Linked DNA regions of Homo sapiens: region 2 is linked to region 1. The links come from fine-mapping of genetic effects on gene expression. A gene starts in region 1. The other region holds a variant in brackets. All regions are shown on one strand. Distances are from middle to middle.

Region 1 (2,740 bases):
ACATGCTTTGGCCTCCCAAAGGCCTGGGATTACAGGCGTGAACCACTGCGCCTAGCCTGTTAGCAGCTCTTAAAATCCAGAGGCATAAGCCTGTATTTTTGAGGGTTTATGCATGGAATCCAGCTAGAAACTGAGTCTATTACAGATCCCATTTATTATCCTTTCTATTCCAAGAAGCCTTTTTTTCTCCTTCCCCACATCTGTTTATGGAAGAAAATGAAGTTTGGGGTGTGGTTTGAGGAATCAGCTAGATTCTTATGATCTGTCACATGCTTGGATGTTGGGGAAGCATTTGGAGAAGCTCATGTGACTTGTCCTAGATTGGGGATTTTAATTGAGACAGATGATGTTTATCGGGCATCCCACCACCTGAGAGTTTTAGCAACAGAGTCACATGTGAGTCCATCAGAACTTACGGCATTGATTCAAGTGCTGTCATAAATAACCAGGACTGCTGTTTTTGGTTACTTTTAAAGACAGTTTCATCTGGACTTTCTGGGCATATCCTCCTTCAGCAAAACCACATTAGGCTGGGAAAACTATTCTGCCTGGAAGTAATGACAACTTGCAACCAACAAGCTTATAAAAATACAAAGAATTCTGGAGCCTATGGCTTCCATTACATTATTCTTTTATAGCCTTTTATGTTCATTACCGCATCCCAGAGGTGAGAGTCAGACACAAATATGAAAATAGGTTTCAATGTTGGAGAGGTAAATCCTAACAGGAAAGGGGTAGGAAAAGATATAATCCCCCAATATTAAAATAAAGATATTGAAGAAGAAGGATGGGAGAGACTAGGGCTGTGTCCTTCCTTTTACTCACCAAAAGAGAAAGTAAGCTCCTATTTGAGTCAATAGATATTGAGGTCTTGTTATTTGCCACCAAAGACAGTCTTGTGAGACTAAATAGCTAGTAATTCCCTACCCTGGCACACATGCTGCATACACACAGAAACACTGCAAATCCACTGCCTCCTTCCCTCCTCCCTACCCTTCCTTCTCTCAGCATTTCTATCCCCGCCTCCTCCTCTTACCCAAATTTTCCAGCCGATCACTGGAGCTGACTTCCGCAATCCCGATGGAATAAATCTAGCACCCCTGATGGTGTGCCCACACTTTGCTGCCGAAACGAAGCCAGACAACAGATTTCCATCAGCAGGTAACGTTTGCAACTTCCTAGATCTTTTAGCTTTTCATTCCTGTCAATTCTCTGAGTATTAGGGATGTAGTGACTTGAGGATCACAATAAACTTTTAGCCTCTGCAGATGAAAACAGAGATGCACTTCTTAGGTCATTCCCTGGCTAAATAAAATCTGCCTGGAAATCTGTAGAATTCCTTGTATGATTTATATATATACATACATGATTGTTAGTAAAAGCAAAGTATATAGGGAATCATTTCCCCATCCTTCAAGAGTGGCCTTTCTGCAGTGTTTTCTACTTTGGCCAACAAGGATCAAAACGGTTAACTCCTTAGTGAGGAGGAGGAGAGTGGTATGGGGAGGTAGTAGCTCAGTGCTTCCTGTTCACTGAGACATCTCAAAGCCCTTAACACTCTAGTTTTTAAATGTCCTACTGGACATTTTGCCAGTTTGCAAAATTACATGTAAATGGACTATAAGCAATTGTGTAAGCCATATGTCATGCTGCAGGCTGCAAATTGTTCTTAAAATGGAGGATTTGTAATTAAGAAAGCCAATGCAAGAAATGAGTGAAGCTAACTAGAGTAAACTTATGAAAAGCTGTGAATTTCATCATCATAGAACATTGCTTTTCAGTCTGAACATTCTTCTAACAAACCTTGGATCTGAGGCTTCTTGTCCTTTGCGGCAGCCACAGTGGGTTTTTGTTGTTAGGGGAAAAATAAAAAACCTTGCCCGCAGCATCTGGTTAAGATTAGGGCAGTTTCCTGCCTAAGGAGGGAAGGGAGAGAAAAAGGAAGAAGAAATGCATAAGGAGAATGAGGAGATATACAATGTCTCAGAAAACAGGAAACATTGTCCTATTTTCCCTTGTCCTCTTCTGACAAGATCTGGGAAAGTACCAGAATTTAGGCACGAAAGAGAAGAACGCCTCGAAGAAATGATCAGGAGGCAAAACTTAGACGGAAATCTCTCCTTTGTGTATTCTGAACCCCACTACCACCTTGCTATTTGTCTGTCTCCAAGCCTGCTAGGGACCCTGGAGGAAACGCACTGAGCCCATTCTGATTGTCCAGTTTCTATCCCCCATTTCTGGTTGTGTACGTGTGTGTGTGTGTGTGTGTGTGTGTGTGTGTGTGTGTGTGTGTGAGAGAGAGAGAGACAGAGAGAGAAACAGAGAGAGTGTGTGTTGCCTAAATCTCCCGAGAGAGAGAGAGAGAGAGAAAGAGAGAAATGGCTAAATCCCCCTAGATCAAAGTCCTTGGAACCAGATGTACCAGCATCCTATCTAAACACAGGCCCCTCCTGACTATCATTGTTTTATCACCCTTTTTCCGTCTACCTTTCTCTTCCTCATAAAGCCTAGTTTTCCTCTGTTTCCCTGCCAAATGGAAGAGTTTTCCCTAACTACATTCTTCTGCAGGATGTGGGGGCTCAAGGTTCTGCTGCTACCTGTGGTGAGCTTTGCTCTGTACCCTGAGGAGATACTGGACACCCACTGGGAGCTATGGAAGAAGACCCACAGGAAGCAATATAACAACAAGGTGCCTGGGGTCCTGGAGGGGGCATGGCAGGAAGGCTGAGACCTGAGCTCT
Region 2 (3,034 bases), 27 kb before region 1:
CAGATGGCTTTCTGTTTATTGTCTCATGTGAGACAGGCAGGGTGGTGTATGTGTCTGACTCCGTGACTCCTGTTTTGAACCAGCCACAGTCTGAATGGTTTGGCAGCACACTCTATGATCAGGTGCACCCAGATGATGTGGATAAACTTCGTGAGCAGCTTTCCACTTCAGAAAATGCCCTGACAGGTGAGAGTTATGTGTATGGGAAATGAATGAGAAGTCCTTTCTTGTTTTTTTCCTGAGACTTAAGAGATGTTTTAGCTGTTAAATTGGTTTGTTGACTCTGGCAAGGCTTCAAGAATTTTCTACTTTAATGAATATAGTCAGTTCTTTTTATCCATATGAGATTATCTACTTTGTGGCTCAGCCTTAGAAAATATTTCATTGGTGATAATATTTTACATTTATCTTAATATTGGTATAAATAGAACAGTAAAAGCCAAACCTACAATACTTTTTTTTTTCCGTTCTAAAAGAATTATCCATGTTTTTATCTCATTTGTATGGATAATTATCTGGTATTTTTTCTACCTCCTGGTGCTTGGCTTTGTGCTAGGTTCAATGATAACAGCTTTTTATTCTATAGATATGGTTATTGGTCAATGTATAAGGTGTTTTCTGTTGTTGTTGTTGTTGTTGTTTGTATCTGTACTGTTGTTCTTTTTTTCTCCCCTATTTTATTATGTTCAGTCTTTTGGCCAGAGTTTGGCTAGAGGAAACAAGTCATATCTATTCTTGAGCAACTCTAGAAAAAAATTTAAAGTGGAAGCAGATAAAAAAACTGGTAGTTAAAATGCAAGAAATTTCAATATACTCATATTAGTGTTGTTGATCTTTAGTTTTCCTCCTTTTTTCCCACCCAAAAAAGAGACAGGGTCTCTCTCTTGCCTAGGCTGGAGTACGGTGGCACATCATAGCTTACTGTAATCTTGAACTCTTCTGGGCTCAGTAATCTGCCTGCTTACAGCTTCTTGAGTAGCTAGGAGTAGTTCATGTCACCACACTTGACCAATTTTTAAATTTTTTGTAGAGACAGGTTCTGTCTGTTGCCCAGACTGGTCTCAAACTCCTGGCCTTCAGCATTCCTCCTCCCATCTTGGCTTCTCAAAGGGCTGGGATTATCGGCATGAGCCACCACACTTGACCAGTTTTCCCCTCCTTTATGTTTTTATGATTTCATTTTTCTAGTTCTTCCTTTTCCCCAAAAGTTGTTCTTCGTTTCTGTATAATAAAGAAGACAAACAGATCTATATGTTTCTATAACATATAAAATTACTTGGTTTTTTTCTTTTTAAAATTTTTTCTTTTTATTCTTTTTTTTTTTTTT[G/TTG]AGACAAGGTCTTGCTTTATTGCTGAGGCTAGAGTACAGTGACTCTTCACAGGCACAGTCATAGCACACTACAGCCTCAAACTCCTGCCCTCAAGCAGTCCTCCTGCCTCAGCCTCCTGATTAGCTGGGACTACAGAAAAGTACTTGTTTTTCAACCAATGACATTTACTCTGTATGTATGTCTGTATGTGTATACAGATAATCAGCTATGAGAATATAGCCTTGCCTCTTGTTTTCTACTACTACTTTCCACTCCTACTTTTCCTTGCACAATGTTATTTTCAATGCTGCCTTTGAACTTAAGAGTGAGATTCATTGATGATAATTGAAGTATTTTAGGCTTGAAAAAAAATTCATCTCCTGCTTGGTCAGTTCTGTTATAAGCAAGGAGATTAAGGGCATGAATAGGATGCTTACTTATCTTTGCCTTCAGTATCTCTCCCCCTCTTCCCCACACACAAAAATGCACTCCAGACTGCTCTTCACATCTTCCTTCAGGGCGTATCCTGGATCTAAAGACTGGAACAGTGAAAAAGGAAGGTCAGCAGTCTTCCATGAGAATGTGTATGGGCTCAAGGAGATCGTTTATTTGCCGAATGAGGTGAGTGTCAAGCTGAGGATTGTGATTTGGTATAGGAAGGATCAAGAGCTGAGAGTTTTATTTCTGTCAGAGTTAAGTTGGATTAGCTCCAGTGGATTAAATTTAACTCTCCATACCCAGATGGATTGTAACACAGAATAAAGTATTTGGAAAGGGAACTAACGTTTCTGAACTTGCCAGACACTATGATAGGTGCTTTATATCTGTCATCTTATTTTATCCTCACAATTGCCTTGTAGTGTAAGATTGATGGTTACCATTTTGCAGATGGAAAAACAGATATAAAGAAATGAACTTGGCCAGGTGCAGTGGCTCAAGGCTGTAATCCCAGCACTTTAGGAGGCTGAGGCGAGTGGATCACCTGAGGTCAGGAGTTTGAGACCAGCCTGGCCAACATGGTGAAACCCCATCTCTACTAAAAAAAAACAACAACAAAATTAGACGGGCGTGGTGGCGTGCGCCCATAATCCCAGCCACTTGGAGGCTGAGGCAGGACAATTGCTTGAACCCAGGAGGTGGAGGTTGCAGTGAGCCGAGATTGTGCCATTACACTCCAGCCTAGGCAAAAAGAGTGAAACTCTGTCTCAAAAAAAAAAAAAAGAAAAAGAAAAAGAAATGAATTTCCCACTGTTACATACTGTTTGATACAGGATTTTGTTTTAATTCATAGTAGTCTGACTACAAAACCTCTACTTTTTCCCTGTTACAACACAAGGCAATATCCATTTACTCAGACCATTTCTTCTTTTTTTTTTTGGTTAGAAATTTGAGACTTCCTATGTCTTTCAGTAGGTGTTTAGTGTTTATAAATTATATACTGTACGTTTTAGGATTCTGTAGAAAATATGGTGGTCCTTTCTATACAGGTACAAAAGGCATCTCAGGGTCACAAAGTTCAGGCTATATAATGGAAATTGACTACATTGTACTGAGAGGATAGTTGCTAGAAATTATGGGTAGGATATTAAAGGTTTGCTTGGAGAGGCACAAAATTGAACATTATGTGGTTTAGTGATTTATTTTTATTTTTATTTATTTATTTTTTTGAGACAGAGTCTTGCTCTGTTGCCCAGGCTGGAGTGCAGTGGCATGATCTTGGGTCATTA

Evidence for each region. PIP is the estimated chance that this variant, and not a neighbour inherited with it, causes the effect.
Region 2: its variant is fine-mapped to the expression of CTSK in whole blood (INTERVAL, PIP 0.97).

What each region holds. Positions count from the first base shown.
Region 1 is chr1:150,806,635-150,809,374 of GRCh38, reverse strand. It overlaps CTSK (cathepsin K), which reads left to right and starts at 1,115. Exons shown (of 8, transcript NM_000396.4): 1 at 1,115-1,161; 2 at 2,569-2,689. The coding sequence starts at 2,570.
Region 2 is chr1:150,833,432-150,836,465 of GRCh38, reverse strand. ARNT (aryl hydrocarbon receptor nuclear translocator) reads left to right here. Exons shown (of 22, transcript NM_001668.4): 7 at 1-186; 8 at 1,826-1,928. Among named protein-coding and RNA genes, the nearest start is that of CTSK, 27 kb to the right of the region's middle. RefSeq lists a cis regulatory region at 53 and an enhancer at 1-125. The variant G/TTG (reference allele first, on the strand shown) is at 1,328.